Linked DNA regions of Homo sapiens: region 2 is linked to region 1. The links come from fine-mapping of genetic effects on gene expression. A gene starts in region 1. The other region holds a variant in brackets. All regions are shown on one strand. Distances are from middle to middle.

What was found. PIP is the estimated chance that this variant, and not a neighbour inherited with it, causes the effect. A credible set is the group of variants that fine-mapping cannot tell apart.
Region 2: its variant is the best candidate, but not a certain one, in a credible set for the expression of NLRC4 in fibroblasts (GTEx, PIP 0.72).

The regions. Positions count from the first base shown.
Region 1 is chr2:32,262,719-32,267,117 of GRCh38, reverse strand. It overlaps NLRC4 (NLR family CARD domain containing 4), which reads left to right and starts at 2,232. Exons shown (of 9, transcript NM_001199138.2): 1 at 2,232-2,380.
Region 2 is chr2:32,220,971-32,225,364 of GRCh38, reverse strand. It overlaps SLC30A6 (solute carrier family 30 member 6), which reads right to left. Exons shown (of 14, transcript NM_017964.5): 14 at 986-4,394. It overlaps NLRC4 (NLR family CARD domain containing 4), which reads left to right. Exons shown (of 9, transcript NM_001199138.2): 9 at 600-912. The coding sequence ends at 892. Among named protein-coding and RNA genes, the nearest start is that of NLRC4, 42 kb to the left of the region's middle. The variant G/A (reference allele first, on the strand shown) is at 2,716.

The DNA of each region.
Region 1 (4,399 bases):
GTAACAAAATATCATAAACTGGGTGGTTTAAAACAACAGAAATTTATTCTTTCACAGTTCTGAGGACCAGTCCAACATCAGTATCATGGGGCTGAAATCAGGGTGTCAGCAGGGCCACACTCCTGGGAGCTTTAGGGGAGAATCCATTTATGCCTCTTCCAGCTGCAGGTGGCTGCTGGCATCTTTTGGCTCGTAGCCGTATTACTCGAATCTCTGCATTCATGGTCTTACTGACTTCTCCTGTCAGTTTCAAATCTCCCTCTGGCTCTCTGTAATAAGGGACCATTATTAAGGGCCCACCTGGATCATCCAGAATTCTCTCCCCATCTTCAGAGCCTTAAATGGAACATATCTGGAAAGACACAATATTTACAGTTCCCAGGGATTAGGATTTGGGATATTTGGGTAGCCACTATTCAGCCTACTACAACCATATTTCTACATTTTCCCTTTTTATTCTATATTACATCATTTATTAGTACAAAAGTAATAGGTGTTTGCTATGAAGAATTAGAATATACAGGTTGGGCATGGTGGCTCCCGCCTGTAATCCCATTACTTTAGGAGGACAACACAGGTGGATCACTGGAGACCAAGAGCTCAAGACCAGCTTGGCCAACATAGCAAAACCCTGTCTCTACTAAAAATACAAAAAATTAGCCATGGTGGTGGCCCACACCTGAAATCCCAGCTACTTGAGAGGCTGAGGCACAAGAATTGCTTGAGCCTGGGAGGCAGAGGTTGCAGTGAGCCAAGATTGAGCCACTGCACTCCACTCCAGCCTGGGCAACAGAACGAGACTCTGTCTCAAATAAATAAATAAATAAATAAATAAACAAATAAAATAAAAAATAAATAAGTTGATAAATAAAATTAGAATATACAGATAAGCCAAAGACAGAAATTTAAAATTGCTTATAATTGTATTCCCCAGCAATAAGCATCATTACTATTTTGGTGGCTGTCTTTGCAGTTTTTTCTCTTGAACATATGTTTATATATAGGTTTCATTACAATTTAAAAATCTAGCTGATAGTGTAGCCCTCAATCTCACTTCAGAGAAACCCACCTCACAAGTTGGGAAACACTGACACTGATGCCCCCTTAGAAAACCCAGGATGTAGACATTTATTTGCCGGGAAACTTTGGTATCCCTCTATGGCAGATAGGCTACTGTCAGAATGCTCTTTTTGAAATAAGAAGTTATGTAACACAAAGACATGTTCCTGGTAGTTTATGCAAAGACAGAGGAAAGAGTATGCAAGAATGTCATCCTCAAGGGAAGTGCAGAGAGATTTCTTCAGTCCTCAGCTGAGTATAAGCTGGCCTCCTGGAGTCTGTGAACACAAACGTCCAATGTGAGTGTGCCTGTGCAAGCCCCTGGCTGTTTATACTCCGGAGGGTGTCCCCGTGCGTCATCGGTGGAGTGGACCAAAACTGGTGATCTGTTTGCCCTGTGTGACCTTGCCCAGAACCCTGCTGACTGAGAGAACACATCTGCTGGAAGTCCTCTGGGATTCAAGGTACAGGGGTAAGCATGACCTTGAATGCAGTAGCAATGTGCTTTAGCCAACTAAGCTGGCTCATTTCATTTACCGCTCTATCTCCCATGGTTAAGCATTAAAAATACATGTTGTGGCTGGGCATGGTGGCTCACGCCTGTAATCCCAGCACTTTGGGAGGCTGAGGCTGGCAGATTGCCTGAGGTCAGGAGTTCGAGACCAGCCTGGCCAACATGGTGAAATTCTGTCTCTACTAAAAATACAAAAATTAGCCGGGCATGGTGGTGCACGCCTGTAGTCTTAGCTACTGGGAGGACTGAGGCGGGAGGAACGCTTGAACCCGGGAGGCAGAGGTTGCAGTGAGCTGAGATTGTGCCACTGCCCTCCAGCTTGGGTGACAGAACAAGACTCTGTCTCAAAAAAAAGAAAAAAGAAAGAAAAAGAAAAAAAATATATGTTGGATGTTCAGAAGACTTTGTTTCATTTTAAGGTATAGAATAAGTAACTCAACAGCAATGAATTCATATGTTGTGAACAAACAGGAAACAAATGAGTAATTCCTTTCTTGACGGAATTTCTAGCTCTTGCATCTTTTACTCTGAAGTTCTACTTCTTCCCCGGCTACTCCTGCCTACACCCATCTTCCCTTTCTGAACTGGTAGTACTTGTGTCCAAACCACTCTTACTGTGCTTTGAAAAAAAAAAAAGGAACTGCTCAGCAGTTCCCCTCTCTGTACACTGTCCTCTCACAGAACAAGAAGGTATCTGGTCTACAAGAACTCGAGGCCTCACTGAAACGGAAAGCAAATACAAAGAAACTTTATTTTAAAAACATGTCTTGGTCTCCCAAGAAGAGGGCAATTGGATTGCTCAGCCAGGTACTGTGGGTAGAGAGAATGGGATTTTTAAGGTCTGGGGCCCAAATATTAAAATCTGGGTTTACATTCATTTAAAGCTTGTGTCTGGGATGTACAAAAGCCTTAACATTGACGAGTGTGATTTGCATGCCTGGCTGGATTTGCCTGCCGAGAAACCTTTAGGGGTGGTTAATCGGGTCTGCTGGGGCTTCATCAGGTTCAAGGGGTACATGTACCCCTTGGACTACTGTGAGATGGAAAGGACTTTGGAAACACTTTTTGGCATTACAGAAAGGAAACTCACTCTTTTTTTTTTTTTTTTTTTGAGACAGAGTCTTGCTCTGTCACCCAGGCTGGACTGCAGTGGCGTGATCTCGGCTCACTGCAACCTCTGCCTCCTGGGTTCAAGCAATTCTCCTGCCTCAGCCTCCCAAGTAGCTGGGATTACAGGCACCCGGCACCGCGCCCCAGCTAATTTTTGTATTTTTAGTAGAGACAGGGTTTCACCATGTTGGCCAGACTGGTCTCAACTCCTGACCTCGTGATCTGCCCACCTCAGCCTCCCAAAGTGCTGGGATTACAGGTGTGAGCCAACGTGCCCGGCCAGGAAACTCACTCTTGTTGCTAAGACTGTTGTTAGAATCACAGATGATCAAAGCTGAAAGGAACGAGGTGGACTACTTAGTCCATCCAATCTCCCAAGTTACTGATGAGAAACCTGATATTTGGAGACAGAAGTGAAGGAAATCACCCTTTACGGGACACCTATTTCGTGATAGGGTCTTTATGTACATTATCTCAGTAGATCCTTGCAGCCTGGCTTTGAGAGGTGGAAAATGTGGTAGAGAGGAGTTAAATGTCCTGCCCTACATCACACTGCTAATTGTCTACAAAACTAGGATAGAACCTGGTCAGCACACTTCTTAACTGTTCACACACTTTTATAATATTAGTCGTATTAATGTGTTTAAAATACCATAGACTGGGTGGCTTAAACAACAGAAATTTATATTCCCACAGTTCTGGAGGCTGCAAGTCCAAGACCAAGGTGTCAGCAGGGTTGGCTTCTCCCCACGCCTCCCTCCTTGGCCTTTTCTCTCTGTATGCACATTCCTGGTATCTCCCTTTGTGTGTCCCGATTTCCTCTTCTCATAACAGCCTCATTTGAGCTTAATGACCTCTTTAAAGGCTCTGTCTGCAAATACAGTCACATTCTGAGGTTCAGGGCTTCAACATATGGATTTGGGGGAAGCCCAGTTCAGCACATAACACTAATATTAACATGTGAGATTGCTGAAGCCTATTAAAGACCTAAGAACATTCTAGTCTAGAGCCTTTTTACTAGAAAGGAAGACAGATAATACCCACTGACCATCTTTGTCACAACTACTTTCATGTTTAATCTTCACAATAGTCCAGGGAGGTGAATATTATGCATGATTTGGAAAGCAAGATTCGGAAAGGCTAAGTAACATGTCTAGGGATACTTACCTCATAAGGTGCAGAGTGAGGATTTGAATTCAGATCTGCAATGCCAAAGCCCACACACATTTTCCATTTCTGTGTGCTTCCTGTCTGCTCCTAATTATATGTACTCTTTCCCTTATTTTATCTGTGAGGTGTGGGAATGACCCCATAGACGTGGGTTATATGGGTCCAGAGAAACTTCAGTTCTCTGAGGAGCTCATGTAACCTTTTTTAAGAAAATGCCAATTTTAGAATTAGTACTAAATATTATTTTCCAGCTGGGCATGGTGGCTTATGCCTGTAATCCCAGCACTTTGGGAGGCCGAGGCAGGCAGATTGCCTATATATATATAATATATATTATTATATTATTTTCCAATGTACAAATGTGGGGGAAGGACTTCTTCCACCCAATTCAGTTATTCACTGGACAGCTTGCGGGGAGGGGTTGCAGGGCCATAGCTACATTCCAAGAGAGTACACTGGTCTCAGTCCTATTCTTTTTTTTTTTTGTCTGAGACAGAGTCTCTCTCTGTCACCCAGGCTGGAGTGCAATGGTGCTATCTTGGCTCA
Region 2 (4,394 bases), 42 kb after region 1:
AAGACAGGATATCCACCTACCCTATGTAGGAAATACTTTAGGTGCCCTATTCTGTAAGGAATGGAGGAACTTCCTGAAGAGGCTCGGGAGGGTTATACATAAACAGGTAAACAAAAACACCCAAATCTTTAGATACTGAAGGAGGCTCACTTACTCAAGTTTACAGTTAGGAACATACCCATAGAAACAACAGTTAGGTGGTGTTTACTTTTTCAGAAGAGGAAACGACTTAATATTGCCAAAGATTGACTCCAGTTTTGAAAACAAGTACTGAATATTTAATTAAAGCAACCTTCCATTTCCTAGGAGTAAGGAAAAGGGGAAAAAAAAGTAATTCATTTACATATTGTTGCTACCTCACTACGAATCACTATTTATCAGATTCCCTTATACTCTAGGAAAATATAATAGACCATATTCACAATCACTGCCCTAGCTATAGAGAATTATATTAATAATTTCTTTCTGAGGCAAAGCACTGGTTCAAACATGGCCATTTCAGAGTGAAAAAAAAGTATGTAAAATAAATGTAGAACCTATTTCTCTTTTTTTTTAAAAAAAATTTTTCTTCCAACTAATATACTTATTTCTTTACCCAGGTGCATTTTTTGGAAAGAACCCTCTGAAAAACTTCCAGCAGTTGAATTTGGCGGGAAATCGTGTGAGCAGTGATGGATGGCTTGCCTTCATGGGTGTATTTGAGAATCTTAAGCAATTAGTGTTTTTTGACTTTAGTACTAAAGAATTTCTACCTGATCCAGCATTAGTCAGAAAACTTAGCCAAGTGTTATCCAAGTTAACTTTTCTGCAAGAAGCTAGGCTTGTTGGGTGGCAATTTGATGATGATGATCTCAGTGTTATTACAGGTGCTTTTAAACTAGTAACTGCTTAAATAAAGTGTACTCGAAGCCAGTAAGTGCTCTGGGACCTCATTATTTTAAGCCTGGTAGTTAAAAAAAATCTTGCAAAAGGATGCCAAAGAAGATAAGGACGTGGAAAGAAGTTTAATTTGATGATTAAAAACATGCAACAGTTTTGTGTCTTAGCTCTCCTACTAGGATTATCGGCGCCTTGAAGGAATTCTCATTCATCTTTGTGTTACCTTTGGTCTGGGTCACACCAACTGGTATACTGAATGCATATTAACTTAGTATAGTGCCTGGCATGTAAGAGATTCTCAACAATATTCTCAATAAATATTCGCTGAATATGAGATAAATTATTAATAGCTACTGAATAAAGAAAGATTATTTAAAACCAGAGAGGAAACTCCATATATGTTCTTTAATCCAAACAGTTTAATTCAAGCAATCTGGAATATAAAAAGCACTTTCTGATATTAGAAGGAGATCAGACTCCCAAAAAAGATCAGCATTCTTTAGTCAAGCAAAACTTGGAAGTTTACAAACAGCTAAATCAGAAGCTTGAAATTCAGGTCCTCTCCAGTACCTGCTACATTATATGTAATTCCAAACATGACTTCAGAGATTAAAGAAGAAAGGGAAGATGTTTCCCATTCTTTTGTACCCTATATAAACTAAGGGTACCCTGCCCTAATCTTTTTTCCAACACTTCCCCAAATAACCCTTCCTTACAAAGAAAGAAGTCTAAGAGAACTCTCTCATCTAAATATATTTAAGTAGAGGCAAGCCTGAAAAAAACACAAAAACCTAAATGGTGTTAGGCTGTGGTTCACCTATTCTCATGGCACCTCAAATTAATGGCTTGGGTGTTGGTGTAGGTAACGCTTGGCCTGTATGTTGAGGTAGTCACTAGATAAAATTCTGGGCACAACATCCGTTTAGCAATTGGGCATACATTCTACAGATTTAGCCATAACGTTTTGAAGCTGATTATTTTACAGATCAACTAATTAATTCCTCTCCCTAACTTTACAGATGAGAAAGCTCAGATGATTTGCCCATGGGTTATAAAACTACTTCCTTACACAGTGGCAGCATCAGAACTGGAATTCAGATCTCTTGCCTCCTAGGCAGTGTTTTTCCTATTATAATATGGTGACTTCGTAAAGCAGGGTTAATTACATTCCACAAAGCTTACATCCTAATCACAAACAATGGGACAAATATTTAAATTGAACTTCTTTCTCTGTCTAGCTTCAAGTGATTCTGTGGCAAGATTTACTAGTAAGGCTGCTGCCTATAGGCCTATGCTGGGCAAGTTCCTTATTTTCATATCCAGAAGTTAGTCAGAGCTTGGCAAATAAGACTTCTCTATATAATAATGCCTGGCCCAATGTCCCCTGTAACATCTTACATGCAGGACGTAGGGCCAATTCTTTCATAACCCACAGGCAACTGTGAGTGTCCTTTCTCAAATAGTGAAGGTAGGTATTAAAGCACCTTTGGTGGGACAGATGCACAGGTGTTGCCTCTGAATTGGTGTTGAGGAAGTAGGCATAAAACCTCACACAGAACTGTGTTTGGTACCTGAACACTTTAAAATCCTATGGGGATGGGGAAGACATGCATGGGGTGGCAGCACATACCTCTTAACCATAACTCAGGACACGGCAGTTCAGATTTCATGCATGACCCTAATTCATATTTAGTTGAGATCAATGGAGGAAGAAGAATCATCCTGTAATAGTAGACCAATAACAGATACAGTAATAGTTGGAAAACATAAGATAAAGGCCAAGGAACAGGTTGCCTTATTACATTTTACGAAGTATCATTTTCCCCAGTAGTCAAG[G/A]TAGTGTAGGCTGTATTTCTTTAGCAGGTCACATGCCTGAACAGGGGTTGCAGATGCCAAAGACAATGACCAACTCCTCACTAAGAAAAAGGTATTTAGGACATGGTCACTTATTACCACAGATGACAATTCTGCTTGACAGAGATGGCTTCTTGGATGTTTTTAATCCACAGTGAAGAAAAAGGATTTCAAAGTGCTGCTCCTATTTGAAAGTGAATGAGTTGACTGAAGAAACTGTTGCAAAAGAAAAACAAAAATCTTCTCTAGATAGCTGGCTGATGGCTGGGAAAGTCATAAATCTCCAGGAGCATTGGATTCCAGGAAAGTTAAGTCCATTCTCAAAATCCCATTTTAAAACTGTTATGGAATGCATAATAAAATAAAACAATAAAAAACCCTCCTAGGTCATGTGTGACTGCTGCTTGTTATACTTTTTGGAAGTAATACTAGCCATGTTAGAAAGTCCTTAAACTCTGCATTTGGAAAACAACTAAAAAATAACATAATCTATGTAATTCTCACATTTCATCACAGTTAACAATTTCCCATTTTTGACAAAGCAAAACAAAAAGAAACTGCCCACTGCAGACCTAACAATGCTGTATTCTATAATCTAAGGTCCATTATGCTTTGGTAAAATTATATATGCTCAAATTCTTTGTGCAACTTGAAAAGACATCAAATTCCATATTATGTATGGAACTCCATGTGTTTTGGTAATATATCTGATATATTTTGTTAATAAAATAAGAAATTAAAAAGCCAATGAATGAAAATGTGTCAGGAAAGATAAATTCATTATGTCAGTATTTGATTAAATGTAACATAGAAAATTGGGATTCTTTCACTGCATATCACCAAAAGTTGGGTAGTCACTTAATCAAAATAAAACACTGAGAACCATGGACTATTTACAAATGTACTAAAATTTTTAAAGGAGAGAAACTTTAACAAAAATCTTGATAATTAAAAATTCAAATTGTGCTAGATAGAATGTATTCCAAAATTTCTGCTAAAAATTTTTGCTTTTAGTTTGTAAGACATAATTCAGGAGAACCTCAAAGAAAAATTTAGCAATTAAGTTTGGAAAAGCTATAAAAGAGACTTTTACTTTTTGAACAGACATTTTTCCCTTTCCCAAAATGTGTATTATTCAAGAAGCATATTTATAAATTTCATTAAAGAAAATATCGGCCAGGTGCGGTGGCTCACACCTAATCCCAGCACTTTGGGAGGCTAAGGTGGGTGGATCATGAGGTCAGGAGTTCAAGACCAGCCTGGCCAACATGGTGAAATCCCCCGTCTTTACTAAAAATACAAAAATTAGCTGGGCGTGGTGGCAGGTGCCTGTAATCCCAGCTACTCGGGAGGCTGAGGCAGGAGAATCATTTGAACTCAGGAGGCAGAGGTTGCAGTGAGCTGAGATCATGCCACTGCATTCCAGCCTGGGCGACAGAGTGAGACTCCATCTCAAAAAACAAAACAAAACAAAAACTAAGGAAGCCTTAATAAAGTACAGCCTTAAGTTAATAATAATGTATTGGCCGGGCACAGTGGCAGAGCAAGACTCCGTCTCGGAAAAAAAAAGAAATATCGTATCTTAGTAATGTGACAGATCTACTCCATCAAGTGGCTCTTATAAAGGTAAGGTCACATCACACTGCAGTCAACTACAAAAC